2 separate regions of the Homo sapiens genome follow, and region 2 is linked to region 1. The links come from fine-mapping of genetic effects on gene expression. Tissue or cell type: whole blood. Region 1 holds a variant in brackets; the other region holds the start of a gene. All regions are shown on one strand. Distances are between the middles of the regions.

Region 1 (8,103 bases):
TTTGCATCCTTATTAAGATCTAACTACATTTTATGTAGCAGAGACAACTGCTTGCTCACTACTTCTGGATTTATTACTACTGATAACATTTCTCATGAATTTTAAAGTTTTAGGCTGGTTCTATACTTGTAATAACAGATGATTTTATATAACGCAAGACAGAGTCCAACCACATGCAGAATCTTCAAGAGCTATAGATACTGCCGTCCGAGCTCTCTAGAGCTAGAGGCCTAAGGAGGTCCTAGCCCCCAAGTAATAAAAAATTTAAATCTTGGCAGGGTGCGGTGGCTCATGCCTATAATCCCAGCACTTTGGAAGGCCAAGGCAGGAGTATCGCTTGAGTCCAGTAGTTTGAGACCAGCCTGGGCAACATGGTGAGACCCCATCTCTACAAAAAGTTAGCCGAGCGTGGTGACACACTCCTGTAGTCCCAGCTACTAGGGAGGCTGAGGTGGGAGGCTTGCTTGAGACTGGGAGGGCGAGGCGGCAGTAAGCCATGATGGTACCACTGTGTTCCAGCCTGGGTGACAGAGTGAGATACTGCCTGAAAAATGAGAAAAATTAAATCTTGCCGGGCATGGTGGCCTTTGCTTGTAGTCTCAGGTACGCAGGAGACTGAAGAGAGATGATCGCTTGAGGCCAGGAGTTTGGGGCTGCAGTGAGCTATGATTTTACCTGTGAGTAGCCACTGCACTCCAGCCTAGGCAACATAGCAAGACTGTCTCTTTTTTTTTTTGAGATGGTCTCACTATGAATTGCTCAGGCTGGAATGCAGTAGCATGATCATAGCTCACTGCAGCCTGCACCTCCTGGGCTCAAGCACTCCTCCCACATCAGCCTCCCGAGTAGCTGGGGCTACAGGCGTGTACCACCATGCCAAGCTAATTTTTTTAAAAAAAATTTGTAGAGACAGGGTCTTAGTATGTTGCCCAGGCTGGTCTCAAAACTCCTGGGCTCACGCGAGCCTCCTGCCTCAGCCTCCCAAAGTGTTAAGATTACAGGCATGAGCCACCACACCCAGCCAACCCTGTCCCTTAAAACATAAAAAGATAAATCTGTGGCTTCTTTTTGATTCTTGCTTGTGCAGTAACAGGCATGTTCCTTAAACTTTGCAGCTGTCTGTCATTCCTTGCATTTAACCTACTCTATCCAGTTGATCCTGGATTCCCCTCCCCTGGGTCCACTTCTTAGTAAACCTATGGCATTATAGGAACACTAGAGCAGGAGAACAGGGCGAGTCTAAGCCTGAGTGTGCCACTGCTAACCATGTATGGGACCTCTCTGTGGCTGTCCCAAAGCGGGGAGATTGGACCAGACTGAGCGGACAGTTACAGAGGCTGTGATACACTCCAGATACCTGTCAGGACTGAGACCCATTTCCAGGAGTGTTGGACACTCATTGTTCAGAGCTGCTGCCAGCTCATAGCTGACTCTTCCTGGGAATTGTGTTCAGTGGAGGGGAGCTGCCCAAGGTTATGCCCTCTTCCAGGGGCAGCCCATGTCTGGAGACTTGTCGATATGGGAGTATGGAGACCCCAACACCCTTGCCTCAATTTGGGACATCTCCAAAGAGCCATCCTGGCTCCACTGCACCGGTGCTGTCGTCTTGAGGCCTCTGCTGCGTCTGCATCTCAGTTCCACCTCTCGCCTGCCCAATCCAGTAGCCCTTGCTCCCTTATGAGTGGTGCTGATGCCCTTTGAAATCTGCCTTTGGGGCACCTGGCTCGAGAGACTTGGTGCGGGGAGTGGTCCCAGGAAGCCGACTGTAAGCTGGCTCGCTGCTGACTGCTGGCCATGATGACCCCATCACCTGTGGCAAGTGGGACAGCTGTAAAGAGGAACTGTTAAACGTTCGCTGTGGTGGCACCAGGGCAGGACACTGGGGAAGGGAATAGAGTACCCTAGGCCTTTGGGAAGTGTAAGTGGAGGAGTGACTGTGACCTTGAGAGAGATGTTGCGGGGGTTATAGGTGATACCTCGGAGAAAGATAATGAAAAGCTGATCATGACTAATCACTAGAAAAGACACGATGTGAGATCCGTTAGAGGCCTCCTTGGCAGCCAGGCAAGAGGGTGGACACAGCTGAAGGGATCAGGCATGGGGTTGTTACTAAGGCTTCAGAGCTCCAAGAAGGTAGAACTTTCAACCTAGCCGAGTGTGCCATACCAAGGTCATTGTCCTAGTTAGGAATGTGGGACCCTTACACTGGGATGGGGACATCTGGATCGATACTCTAGAACTCTAGAAAACCTGGACACCCCAGCCCCGCCACCCTCCCCCACACCCTGAAACCTCTAAGCCCACTCCTCCCTGTTAAGGGCCGGTGCTTTGCTCTTGTTTGAAGGTCATGCCCAGGCCTCTGCCACCTCCCCTTAGGATCTGTGCTCACCACCCCTCCTGGCCCCTGGACCAAGAAGGTCAGCAGGAGGGTGCTGGGCCTGCCAGAGAAGAAAGAAGATGAGCTGCCTGGGGGGAGCAGGAGTGTGCCTGAGACAAGGGCATGGCCATATGGGGCTCTGCTATGACCTAGGACTCAGCACCCTTGCAGAGCCCCCAGGAAGCAGTGCCCGTAGGCTGCCAGCTCGGTCGGCTCTCTGAAACTTCCCAGGAAGCCATGGCCCACAAGGAAGAGAATAGCAACCTAGGGGCAACCGTGGCAGCTCTGCAAGAAGCGAACGAACGCCCAGAGAAGCGGGTGTGGGAGAGTGGAAATGCAGCTGACCCCTGAACAACGCAGGTCTCAACTGCCTGGGGCCACTTACATGTGGGTTTTTCAATAAATATATTGGAAATTTTTTTTGAAATTTGTGACAATTTGAAAAAACTCACAACTGAACCGTGTTGCCTTAGAGATAGTGAACAAATTAAGAAAAAGCTAGGTATGTCATGGACGCATAAAATATTTGTAGGTACTAGTCTATTTTATCATTTACTACCATAAAATATACACAAATCTATTACAGAAAGTTAGAAGTTAGTCTAGGTGCAGTGGCTCACACGTGTAATCTTAACACTTTGGGAGGCTGAGGTGGGAGAATCACTTGAAGCCAGGAGTTTCAGACCAGCCTGGGAAACAGTGAGACCTTCGTCTCTACAATTAGCTGGATATGGTGGCACATGCCTGTAGTCCTAGCTACTTGGGAGGCTGAGATAGGAGAATTGCTTGAGCCGAGGAGTTTGAGGCTGCAGTGAACCAAGGTCACACCACTGTACTCCTGCCTGGAAAACATAGCAAGACCCTGTCTCCAAAAAAAAGGTTTTTTACTGGGGGCAGTGGCTTACGCCTGTAATCCCAGCACTTTGGGAGGCCGAGGCGGGTGGATCACCTGAGGTCAGGAGTTTGAGACAAGCCTGGCCAACCTAGTGAAACCCCGTCTCTACTAAAAATATGAAAACTAGCTGGGTGTGGTGGTGGGCACCTGTAATCCCAGCTACTGGGGAGGCTGAGGCAGGAGAATCACTTGAACCTGGGAGGCGGAGGTTGCAGTGAGCCGAGATCGCGCCATTGCACTCCAATGTGGGGGACAGAGCAAGACTCCATCTCAAAAAAGAAAATAAAAAAAAAGTTTTTTTGGTCAAAAGTTACACATGCAAACACTACGTGGCACATTTGTAGTTAAGAGAAATGTAAAGGTGCAGTATAAATATAGCCGCAGCCTGAAAGACGAGGCCAAATGACTGCAGGTCCTGAAGCCCAGCTTGCAGCAGGTCAGCAGCTACAGCTGCCTCCATGGCTAGTTATGAATTTTTTTCAGGGCAAATGATGGGAGGGTTGGCACATAAGTGGGGGAGGAAAAATATGGAAACAAATACTATGAAGACAACAAGCAACGTTTGGCTACCACTGATGGGTCACATATACTGAAATGAGTGACAAAAACATTCTGGGATGTGGCTGGAAGCATGGTGCCTCCCAAGTGGCATCCTCTGCTTCACTCAGACTCATGATCCTCCAACAACAAAACCACCTCCTGCTCGCAGATTCTTTGGACAAACCATAAGTTAAGCGTGAGTGGCACCCCAGAACAATATGTGCCATTTTCTACCACTAGAAAGAAGACAGGAGCGGGTCCCATCTTCAAAACCTGACAAGCAAAGACAATGAAAAACAGTTTAAACACGCAAAATACAGGGCTTTTCATGGCATTGCACTTTGCTTACCATTAACTGGATTAAAATTGTTTGACAAAAAACTTATAACTGC[A/G]TACAGTTGACCGTAGCACATACTGTACTGCCCTGCTGATCTCACAGCCATCTCCTGTAGTTACTGCAGTGGACTTGAGAGTGGCGATGATCTGCTTAAAGCGCCATGCGTCTCATCAGCTCCAAGGGAGCAGTTTGTCCCTCCAGTAAATTGTAGATCACAGTAAAAAGGGATCTCTCGGCTGGGCGCAGTAGCTCATGCTTGTAATCCCAGCACTTGGGGTGGCCGAGGTCAGGAGATCAAGACCAGCCTAGCCAATATGGTGAAACCTTTTCCTGCTGACCTTTTAATTGTCTCTATTAAAAATATACAAATTAGCCAGGCGTGGTGGCGCACACCTGTAATCCCAGCTACTCGGGAGGCTGAGGCAAGATAATCACTTGAACCTGGCAGGCAGAGGTTGCAGCGAGTCGAGATCGTGCCACTGCACTCCCGCCTGGGCAACAGAGCAAGACTTTATTTAAAAAAAAAAAAAAAGGGATCTCTGTCAGTTCTTGTGTTTTTTCATCATGTTTGGTGCAGTACTGTAAATCTTCAGTAACACCATGGGACCCATACAACGTGCCATTAGTGATGCTGCAAGTGCCTCCAAGAAGCAAAGGAAAGTCATGACGATAAGAACAATTTAAGTTGCTTGATAGGTATTATAGATTGAGGTCTGCAGCCACGGGTGCCACCCTCCCAGCCGATTCATCTTGTAAATGGATGACATAAACGCACGGTATTGATACAGTACAGTACTATAAATGTGTTTTATGATTTTCTGAACATTTTCTTTTCTCTAGCTTACTTTATTGTAAGAACACAGTGTATGACAACACACTTCCCATACAAAGCAGGTGTTCGTGGACTCTTTATGTTCTCTCTAAGGCTTTCCGTCAACAGTAGGCTATTGGTAGTTAAGTTTTGGAGGGGCCAAAAGATGTAGTGGATTTTCGGCTGTGCAGGGGTCAGCGCCTCTAACCTCCACAATGTTTAAGGGTCGGCTGTACTCTGTTTGTGATGGCCCTGACACCTACCAGCCAAATATGTTCTGCAGGAGGGCTGCACTCAGTGGCTCACACCTGTAATCCCAGCACTTTGGGAGGCCGAGGTGGGTGGATCACCTGAGGTCAGGAGATCAAGACCAGCCTGGACAACATGGTGAAACCCTGTCTCTAGTAAAAATACAAAAAATTAGCAGAGAGTGGTGGGGCGCACCTGTAATCCCAGCTACTCAGGAGGCTGAGGCAGGAGAATCGCTTGAACCTGGGAAGCAGAGGTTGCAGGGAGCCGAGATTGTGCCATTATACTCCAGGAGCAAGAATGAAACTCCATCTCAAAAAAAAAAAATGGAGGAGGAGGAAGAAAAGAAGAGGAAGGAGAAAGAGAAGGAAGAAGAAGAAAGGAAGAAGAAGAAGAGGAGGAGGAGAGAAGAAAGAAGGAAGAAAGAAGAAAGAAGAATCATCCTGGCCTAGGCCCAGCTCCCAGTGGGACCACTGGGTCCACAGCTCCACCCAGCCATTTCCTTGGCCTTGATATCTAATCAAAGAGGACTCACTTCATAGTTGACAGAAGCCTCACACGGGGTATTGGCCTGGGAAGCCACAGTGGGGAAGGCCCAGAGAAGAAATGACAAGGAGCCTTGCTTCCCAGTGGGTCAGACACAGGGTGGCGTCTGCCTCATAGGTGCCTTTTTTTTTTTGAGATGGAATTTCGCTCTTGTCGCCCAGGCTGGAGTAGAGTGGCACGATCTCGGCTCACTGCAACCTCCGCCTCCTGGGTTTAAGCGATTCTCTTGCCATACCCTCCCAAGCTGGGATTACAGGCTCCCGCCACCACGCCCAGCTAATTTTTGTATTTTTAGTAGAGACGAGGTTTCATCATGTTGACCAGGCTGGTCTCAATCTCCTGACCTCAGGTGATCCGCCCACCTCAGCCTCCCAAAGTGCTGGGATTACAGGAGTGAGCCACCACGCCTGGCCATAGATGCCCATTTGATTTTCCAGTCTGGGCCCAACGAAACGCAAATGATCCCTAGCAGCTGACAGCAGTCTGCTGCAAACACAGCAAAGTTGAGTCCCAGTTGCAGCTGCAGTGACCACCAGCCAGCCTCTGTCATGGCCCCCGAGTGCTGGGCCCAGCAAGGCGGGCTCAAGAGCAGTAAGCAGCAGTGGCAGGGGTGGGGCCCAGCGGGATCCCAGCATCGTGGCTCTGGCTCACCCAGACAAACCCGGATCTGCCACCCAAGTGCCCAAGTCTCCAGCCTGCCAGTGACAGAGACCAGCGTTGGTCTCCTCAAGGGACTGAGTGAGGAGACCAGTCACCACCCGGTGCAAACTGAGTCCCTTCCACGCGGGAAAGGGCCACGAGCAATTCATGTTTTCTTTTTTTTGTTTGTTTTTGAGACAGAGTCTCGCTTGGTCGCCCAGGCTGGAGTGCAGTGGCACAATCCTGGCTCACGGCAACCTCTGCCTCCGGATTTTGTGAACCAAGCAGGAGGTTGCTTGCCCTGCATCCTGGCAGGAGTCAGCAATTCTCCTGCCTCAGCCTCCTGAGTAGCTGGGATTACAGGTGCCCACTACCATGCCTGGCTAATTTTTGTAGTTTTTAGTAGAGACGGGGTTTCACCATGTTAGCCAGGCTGGTCTCCAGCTCTTGACCTCAGGTGAGCCACCCGCCTTGGCCTCCCAAAGTGCTGGGATTACAGGTATGAGCCACGGCTCCCGGCCATGTTTTCTATTTTTAGCTTTTCATTTTGAAATATTTTCAACCTTACAAAAAAGTTGTGAAAATACTACAAAGACCTCAAAAACATTTTGCTAAGTTGTGCCAGACACAGAAGACCACATATTGTATAGTTGCATTTATATGAAATATCCAGACAAAGCAAATCTGCTGAATGCATGCCCCAAAAGTTCATGTGTTGGACTTAATCCCCAGTGCAACAGTGTTGGGAGGTGGGGCCTAGTAAGAGGTGATTGGGTCATGAGGGCAGAACCCTCATGAATGAATGTTTTTTTTGTTGTTGTTGTTTTAATTTGAGAAGGAGTCTCACCCTGTCGCCCAGGCTGGAGTGCAATGGCGCAATCTCTGCTCACTGCAACCTCCATCTCCCGGGTTCAAGCGATTCTCCTGCCTCAGCCTCCCAAGTAGCTGGGATTACCGTAGATTGCAGACCTGAATATAGGAGACTATCTTGATGACCTCAGAGTTGGGAAGAATTTATTAGACAAAATACAAAAAGAGTTAACCATAAGGTAAAACACTGATTCATTTGTTACAGTCAATTTAAGAGCTTCTGTGCATCAGGAGACACCATCAGGAGCCTGGAAACACAAGCCATTGGTGAAAGAGAGCCTCTCCCTGGAGGCAGGTTTTGGCTACTGTCAGGGAGCATGCTGGAGCCACAGCAGTGGGTGACATAGGAGTTTGCTTGTGCTAACCTGTGCACTGGGATGCCGTGGGTGCTGGAGCATCCTTCTACTGCAGGAAGGATGGCCTTGGGCCTGCACACTGTTGGACTTCTTGGGCCCAACAGAACCAGCTCCTGTGGCAGACTGCCCTGGCCACGCAGTCACTTGGTGCCCCAATGTCCCAAGGTCCAGTTTTCATTTGTTTTGTTTTTGGAACAATGTCCATTCCCTGCTGGGGAAGGCACAGCCTTGATCTGGGACCATAAGATTATGCACTATGACTCTCTCACGAGGCTTCTGCTAGAAACACCACCTGGCCCTGTCTCTACCACAGCTATTTCTAGCACCAGGGGGTGTGCTCGATTTTCTGAACCAAGCAGAAGGTTGCTTGCCCTGCATCCTGGCAGGAGTCAAAGCAGCAGTCCCGAGTGTGAACTGTGTTGCATCCAAAGCCTCCAGAGGCCCGCCAAGGCCTGTGTGCCTTTCTTAGTGGCAAGAGATCAA
Region 2 (8,103 bases), 75 kb after region 1:
GAGAAGCCACTAAAACCAGATAGTCTAATACAGTGGTTAGGTACAAAATTAAGATACCTTCAAAAATTAATATAGCTTTTATATGAGCAGACATCTAATTAGAACACATAATTGATAAAGAGTCCATTTATAACAGCAACAAATAAAATGTTACCAAGGGATACCAAGGTTACTTGAAGAAACGTAATGGATCATGTTTAACACCACAAAGATGTCTAGGTTGATCCATTAACATTAATACGATTAATATGATCCTAATACAAAATCATGAGGTTTTCGGGGGAAGTATCCAAAAGGATTCTAAGGAGGACAATGAGCACCTACCAAAAATTGAACTGGGTAATGACTTAGCAATTTTACTTCTCAGCTTCTACCTTAAAACACCAATAAAACTGTGGATTTTCTATGAGTATATAAACAAGTAAGAAAAGTTGTTTTTTTTTTTTTTTTTTTGAGACAGAGTCTGGCTCTGTTGCCCAGGCTGGAGCACTGTGGCGTGATCTCGGCTCACTGCAACCTCTGCCTCCTGGATTCAAGTGATTCTCCTGCCTCAGCCTCCCAAGTAGCTGCGATTACAGGTGCCCGCCACCACGACCTGTATTTTTTGTATTTTTAGTAGAGACGGGGTTTCACAACATTGCCCAGGCTGGTCTCGAACTCCTGACCTCATGATCTGCCCCCCTCGGCCTCCCAAAGTGCTGGGATTACAGGTGTGAGCCACCGCACCCGGCCAAGAAAAGCCTTTTTAAAAGTTTAGGACTCACAGAACCTGGTAAAGGAATTAATTGTGGGAACTGCTGAGATAGTATGGTTCTGCCACTCCCTAGATGGAGAAACCACTTGATTCCCGTGTATTTCGGAATTCTCATGTCTCTAAGATGGGAATGATGCCTAAGTCAAAGGTTGTTGAAGTTAAACGTGTTAAAGTAGTACACAGCCGACTTGCAATTAAAATTAAAGTAGTACATAGCCGACTTGCCGTCCTCTTTGGTTTCAAGTAATTTTTCTTTGTTTTTGAGACAGGGTCTGGCTGTCGCCCAGGCTGGAGTGCAGTGGTGTGAACACGGCTCACTGCAACCTCTACCTCCTGGACTGAAGCGATTCTCCTGCCTCAGCGACCCTGAGTAGCTAGGACTACAGATGCGCGCCACTACATCTAGCTATTTTATTTTGAATTTTAGTAGAGACAAGGTCTCGCTACGTTGCCCAGGCTGCTCTGGAACTTCTGAGCTCAAGTGATCTGCCCTAGTGGGCTTCCCAAAGTGCTGAGATTATGGGCGTGAGCCACCGGGGCCAAGCAACTCACATTTCATAAGGTTGAAAATGACCACGAGGGTCAGGGGCGCTGGCTCACACCCGTAGTCCCGGCACTTTGGGAGCTAAGGCGGGAAGAACACTTGAGCCCAGGAGTTCCAGACCAGCCTGGGCAACACGGCCGAAACCTCATTCCTACAAAAAATATAAAAATTAGCTGGGGATGGTGGCCCACACCTGTAGTACCAGCTACGTGGGAGGCTGAGGTGGATCAGCTGAGCCCGGGAGATGCAGGTTGCAGCGAGCTGTGATTGTTACCACTGCACTCCAATCTGGGCGACAAAGCGAGACCTTGTCTCAAAATAAATAAGTAAATAAATAAATAAATAACACTGGTGAACATGGAAGAGTGAAACAGGAAAACAAACAAGGAAATAGAGGCCGGGCGCAGTGGCTCACACCCGTAACACCAGCACTGTAATCCCAGCACTTTCGGAGGCCGAGGCGGGCAGATCACGAGGTCAAGAGATGGAGACCTTCCTGGTCAACATGGTGAAACCCCGTCTCTACTAAAAATACAAAAATTAACTGGGCTTGGTGGCGCGCGCCTGTAATCCAAGCTATTCGGGAGGCTGAAGCAGGAGAATCGCTTGAACCCAGGAGGCGGAGGTTGCAGTGAGCCGAGATCACGCTACTGCACTCCAGCCTGGCGACAGAGTGAGACGTGAGACTCTGTCTCAAAAACAAAAAAAGGAAATAAAAATAAACGGAAAATTTGTTTTTAAAAAACAGCATGAAACATTAGACGTGGAATAATTTAAAAATGCAAATGATCTCCCTTTATTTGCAACTCTTAGGACCCAGCTCCCGAAAGAAAATAAGTAAAAAGTTTCTGAGCCCTTAAAATGGCCCTTACAAACGCTTAGCATTAAATGCAAGCTTACAGACACATACTCAGCATCTTGCTGACTTTTTAACATACCTCTTAAACAAGTCTGATCCACGCCGGGCACAATGGCTCTCGCCTGTAATCCCAGCACTTTGGGAGGCCGAGGCAGGCGGGTCACCTGAGGTCAGGAGTTCGAGACCGGCCTGACCAACATGGAGAAACCCTGTCTCTATTAAAAACACAAAATTAGCTGGGCATGGTGGCGCATGCCTGTAATCCAGCTACTCGGGAGGCTGAGGCAGGAGAATTGCTTGAACCTGGGAGGCGGAGGTTGCGGTGAGCCGAGATCGCGCCATTGCACTCCAGCCTGGGCAACAAGAGCGAAACTCCGTCTCAAAAAAAAAAAAAAAAGAAGAAGAAGTCTGATGCTATTCTTTCTCAGGGCATAGCAGATTACCAATAATTAGGAGGGAGGGACTATCAGAAGCAGATACGGTGACTGCAGTGTTAAGTGATATCAAGCAGGGAGACAGGTGCGATCCGGAAAAGGTTAAGTGGCATTCTCTATCTGGCACGCTGAAAGTTAGGGAGGCAAATATGTCCTAGAAACACAGATTATCTGTCTTTAAGACTCCGGGGCCCGTGGTTTATGCGTCGGCGAACAGCCATATCAAGTCCCTGGCCCCGCGGAAACGGACGGCGGCAGAGGCGCGGGGCGACGGAGAGGGCGCCCAGGTGTGGAGCAGGGACGCCGCCGCGGCGCGCTCGGTCTCTAAGAACCGTCCTCCCCCTCTCACTGAAACTGCGACAGCGCTACTTCGTGGGGTAGGCTCTGCGTAAAGGATGCTATACTCAACCGGATTCTCCCACTACCTGCTACAATTCACAAGAGGCCACCTCCGCAGAACCATTACCTCTGGTTTGTACAAGAACCAAACAAAAAGCTCAGAACGTTATGCGGGGGCGACCCCAATGAGACCCGCCCTCAGCGGTCCCTGCACTCCTTCGGGCCCGGTGCATCCCGGAGCCATTCGAGACAACACCCACAGCCCCGCCACTCCCCGTCCGCTGTCCCCGCGCCGGAGGAGGAGGAGGGGGCTGGCACCCGCCAGACCTGGTGCGCCTGGAAGAGGCGGCAGCTGCAGCAGCGTAGCACCCGAGAACGCTGAAGCGACGCCATCCCTGCTTGTGCAGTCGCCAGGCAGCCAAGCGCGTGCGCTCTGCATTTGTCCCGCCGCGGCCCCGCCCCACGCACGCGCTCCGAACCCTCTAGTCCCCTACGCCGTCTCGCATGCGCTTATACTCTTCGCTCCGGCCGCCGCGGCCCCGCCCCTGCGCACTGGGATCCCTCTAGCCTGCCGCGCCTCTCGCTGGTCATCTGCGCCCCTCCGACCTCGGAAAGAGTCCTGGGTGCGGGATTCCTGGTAGCCGACTCGTCGTCTGACCAGGGCCGTGCCCGCATCTTCCTAAGGCACTGGTTCCGGCCCTGGGGAGACTGGAATTGAGACGACAGGGCCTCCGCTGACCAGTCCTTGGACACAACGCGGAGCGGGGCTGAGGGGCCGCCCTGCCAGGCCTGCGCTGCCGTGCTTTTAGGTAGCAGCGAACAGTTAGCCTTTGAACCGGAGCCCGGGGTGGAATACGGGGAGACGGAGGGGCTCACCACACCCACGCTTCCCGGAGAGGGCGGCGGAGGCGCGCGGCCGCCGAGCGCGAAGCCGGTCCCCCTGCAGCCCCGGGAGCGTCCCAGGCCCACCCTACGGAGGGTGGAGGCGCCCCCGCAGCCCGACGCTCACGCCGCAACCCTGTGTGGCTTAGGGTTGTAACCTCGTTGGAAAATAAAATACAAAAAATATTAAAATTACCTCCCACCGTACAACCCTCGGTGTCTAGGGTTGTAATTTTAATTTTTTTTCCAACTTTTACACAGTGACTATCACCAAAAAAGCGAGGTGTTTTTTTTTTGTTTTTTGTTTTTGGAGACAGTCTCGCTCAGTCGCCCAGGCTGGAGTGCAGTGGCGTGATTCTCCTGCCTCAGCCTCTCCAGTAGCTGGGATTACGGATGCCCGCCACCACGCCCAGCTAATTTTTGTATTTTTAGTAGAGACGGTGTTTCTCCATGTTGGCCAGGCTGGTCTCGAACTCCTGACCTCAGGTGATCCACCCGCCTCGGCTTCCCAAAGTACTGGGATTACAGACGTGAGCCACTGCACCCGGCCGACACTCGCTTTTAACAGCAGAAACCATCCCGTTGAAGAAAACACCCAATCCTGACAAGGGTGCAGGGAGGGCTACCCCTCTGACAGGGTGCTGGGAGAACGGTCAAGTGCAAAACCGTGGAAAGCAACCTGGCAATACTGCTACCCCAAGAAAGGAATCCCTTCACCTAGGTGATTTATTATTCATTCCCTAGTGTTCCCTGAAGAATACTAGGAAGAAATGGAAATCAGTGTTCTGAAGAACGGCACGGACTCTTAGGCAGTTCCATCAGCAAGAACCTGAGTTTGAAGTGACAACGTGCTGTGGAGAGGCAAGGTTACAGAATTACAGTACATCGTTTGACTTCTGTGACACCGGCATTATTTTCTGGCGTGTGTGTGTGTGTGTGTGGCTAAGGTCGTAGGTAATGCTAATTTTTAAATTTTTCCAACTTTTGTACAGTAAGTAGTTAGAAAAAAAAATTGAGAGACAATATGCCAATAGACAATGGTCAGATAACGAATGACAATAAACTGACTGCAGCCTCTGCAGTAACCGGGCAGTCGGCTGCTTGGGAAGGACGTGGTCAGGACTGCTTGCTCCTCTATTTTTTGTACCACCCTCCCCATGTCAGAACCAACCCAAGAAAGCGCTCCCCAAACCAGTCACAGAAAACATCCTGCTTCTTGTTAGCTCACCTCCAGTTTCCAACAGCCTGCGGTCAGAACCACCTGGAGCCTTCCCCGTTTTCCACCCCCTGCGTCCTTGCGCCTACCCACACCGGGGATGTTGCTGACTCCCTTGCTGTAGCAAGCTCTGAATACTGTTTCTCATTTGGGTGGTTTTCCTTCATTTCTACGTTTGAGCTACTGTGGCTGAGAACAGAAAGCATCTGCAAAAAATGTTTTATGCTTAATGAAAGGAGTAGAATAAAAATTTCATATATGACATCAGTTAAACTCTGAAAAAAAATACAGAATAAACACCAAAATACTGAGTAATCTGTAGCACTAGGAAAAATTGTTCTACTTTTCTGTATATTTTTCTCCTTTTGGCAATGAACCGGTAATCCTTTAAAAATTCATGTATATAGTTTTTTTTCTTGGAAATTATAAGAATGATTTGATGAGTGGTTTGATGCAACTTATATTACTTGGTAAGCAGTTTTAAAATATTCATGTTTACTTATAAAATTTAAATTTTTTATTTGTATTATCTATATATTATTTAATGTTACTGTTCTGGTTGTTAAACATTTTGAGTTATCTTCCCAGGTTGAATGATTTATGGATTAAAGTACTATTGTACATTTTCGTACATTGTATCACGTGAATAGGCCAGATTCCTCTTTCCTATTCTTTGGTTAATTTCTTTGGTGTATTCACAAGCTTATACTTCCATATATTAAAAACATTTATCTTACCTCTGTAAAGACAAAAAATGGGAAATAAAAAGCCATTTATCCAAATTCCAAGTTATTCAAATCTAATTGAATATAATCAGTGTAAGACTTAAAATTGCCAAATATGTGGGGTTATTATATCTTAATTATATTAAGGCCAACAATGGTCTTTTTGGTATAAATCATTTGAAATTATTTTATGGTACTTTGTGTAAATACTAGAAAGGAAATTGAAGCCAGGCATGCTGGTTCATGCCTGTAGTCCCAGCTACTAGGGAGGCTGGGGCAGGAGGATTACTTCAGGCCAAGAGTTTGAGGCTGCCATGAGCTATGGTCATGCCACAGCACTCCAGTCTGTCTCTAAAACAAACAAACAAGCAGACCGGGCATGGTGGCTCACGCCTGTAATCCCAGCATGTTGGGAGGCCGAGGCGGGTGGATCACGAGGTCAGGAGTTTGAGACCAGCCTGGCCAATATGGTGAAACCCCATCTCTAGTAAAAATAGAAAAATTAGCTGGGCGTGGTGGTGCACGCCTGTAGTCCCAGCTGCTTGGGAGGCTGAGGCAGAAGAATTGCTTGAACCCAGGAGGCAGAGGTTGCAGTGAGCTGAGATCACGCCACTGCACTCCATGCTGGGCAACAGAGCAAGACTTGGTCTCAAAAAACAAAAAAACAAAAAAACAAAAAAACAAAGCTACTTAATTAAAACAAAAACAGCAGCCACAGAGATATACAATAGTACCTGAGTTTCACCTTCTGCAGCTTTAGTTACCCAGAGTCAACAGCCACCTGGAAAAGAGATGAGTACAGTACAAGAAGATATTGTGAGACAGACCACATTTACAACTTTCATTACAGTATAACCGTTACATTTTATTATTAGTTATTGTTGTCAATCTCTTAAGGTGCCTAATTCATAAACTTAATCACAGGTATGTATGCATAGGAAAAAACAGTATGTATAAGGTTTGTTATTATCTGTGGTTTTAGACATCCACTGGGGGTCTGGTTTTAGATATCCACTGTATCCCCTGTGGATAAGGGGGTAACTGCTGTATCTTTTAGTAGAAGCAAGAGCAGCCCCATGTGGGGGCTAACACTGGACACTGGTCAGTTTCAGCTCCTCATGCAAAGTGAGGGTATCCTTGTGGCTCCAGCCCTGGGGCCCCCTGCGGTCACCTTTGGCTCCACAGTCTGGTTCTTGAACCCAAGGGCAGACAGCTTGCTACAGCCCAGGCCTGAGGATGCACTTCCTTCACCAGGACCCACAACCCCTGCCCATGAAGACCTGTGGAGCTCAGGGCATCCCCTGATGCAGGTTGGTCAGGACCTGCCCAGCTTGCACCAGCAGGTTCTGCGTCTCCATCTGACCTGGCAGACCTTGCACTCTTCCACCCACTGTGGAGGACTAAGTGTCTTGAACTTCCAGAACACAGCCAGGGCCCCATACTTGGCCTGGGGAGAAGTTGGGAGGCCTAAGCAGTGGTTGGGGGCCACAGCAAGGCATTGCACACAGTGGTTTTTATTTCTTTCAGGGATTTATTAAGGCATTGAGCACAGTGTAATTTCTAGCCAAGTGAAATGAATCCAAGGAAATATATCAGGACCTGAGGGATGTTTTTTTAAAGTTACTGGAAAGGATGATGAGCTGAGAGCACGTGTACAGCCACGCCTGTGCGCAGCGCCCACTCTGTGCAATAAACATGTTCTGCCCATGTTCCTCAGTCAGGAGGTTCAGGCTCCCGGAGAGCACCTGAGGGTTCCATCACTTTGGTGCCCAACAAGCACATGCCCCCCAACCTGGTGCCAAGAGGCAGGAATGACCCCCATACCACATAGCTGCAGGAAAGCATCCACGGATGGAGGGACTCAGCTGGCCTGGCCGCAGTGTGGAGCACAGAGGTATGAGGCAAGCAAGGGCAGATCTGAGAGCCTGTAATGCTAGGCAGGTGCAGCTGGTGCGAGGCGGGCTCCCACCAGGTGTAAGGAAGGTGGGAGCCACAGCCTCTTCCTGGGCCCAGAAGCAGCCGGCGCCAGGAGATGCAGGCCCAGGGAATCTGTCTAAGGCAGCTGGGTCTGCACCAGCCTTCTTTCCACTCACAACTCACTGCTCCTGGGAGAGCAGGAGGGGCACACCTTTAAAGAGAAACTGATAAGGGAGGAAAGGCAGGAGGAGATGAGGCCAGCCCCACTGATGACACCTTGGGCCAGGCCTCACAGCTGCAGGCATCAGCCGGAAACTCCAGGCTGCTCATGGTCACTGGCGGTGCTGAACTGTCTCTCCACTTTCTTTTGGTCCTTGATCTTGAGTCCAATGTCCACTCTCTTCTCAAAGAAGTTCACCAGCACGGACTCCGT

What was found. PIP is the estimated chance that this variant, and not a neighbour inherited with it, causes the effect.
Region 2: it holds the start of MRNIP, and the variant in region 1 is fine-mapped to the expression of MRNIP in whole blood (TOPMed, PIP above 0.99).

Annotation. Positions count from the first base shown.
Region 1 is chr5:179,780,711-179,788,813 of GRCh38, forward strand. It overlaps the pseudogene LOC100884169. Among named protein-coding and RNA genes, the nearest start is that of LTC4S, 9.2 kb to the right of the region's middle. The variant A/G (reference allele first, on the strand shown) is at 4,205.
Region 2 is chr5:179,855,474-179,863,576 of GRCh38, forward strand. MRNIP (MRN complex interacting protein) reads right to left here and starts at 3,344. Exons shown (of 7, transcript NM_016175.4): 1 at 3,258-3,344. The coding sequence starts at 3,323. TBC1D9B (TBC1 domain family member 9B) reads right to left here. Exons shown (of 21, transcript NM_015043.4): 21 at 6,598-8,103. The coding sequence ends at 7,975. MRNIP-DT (MRNIP divergent transcript) reads left to right here and starts at 3,530. Exons shown (of 2, transcript NR_134283.1): 1 at 3,530-3,739; 2 at 4,557-5,810. RefSeq lists silencers at 2,766-2,875, 3,776-3,905 and an enhancer at 3,506-3,705.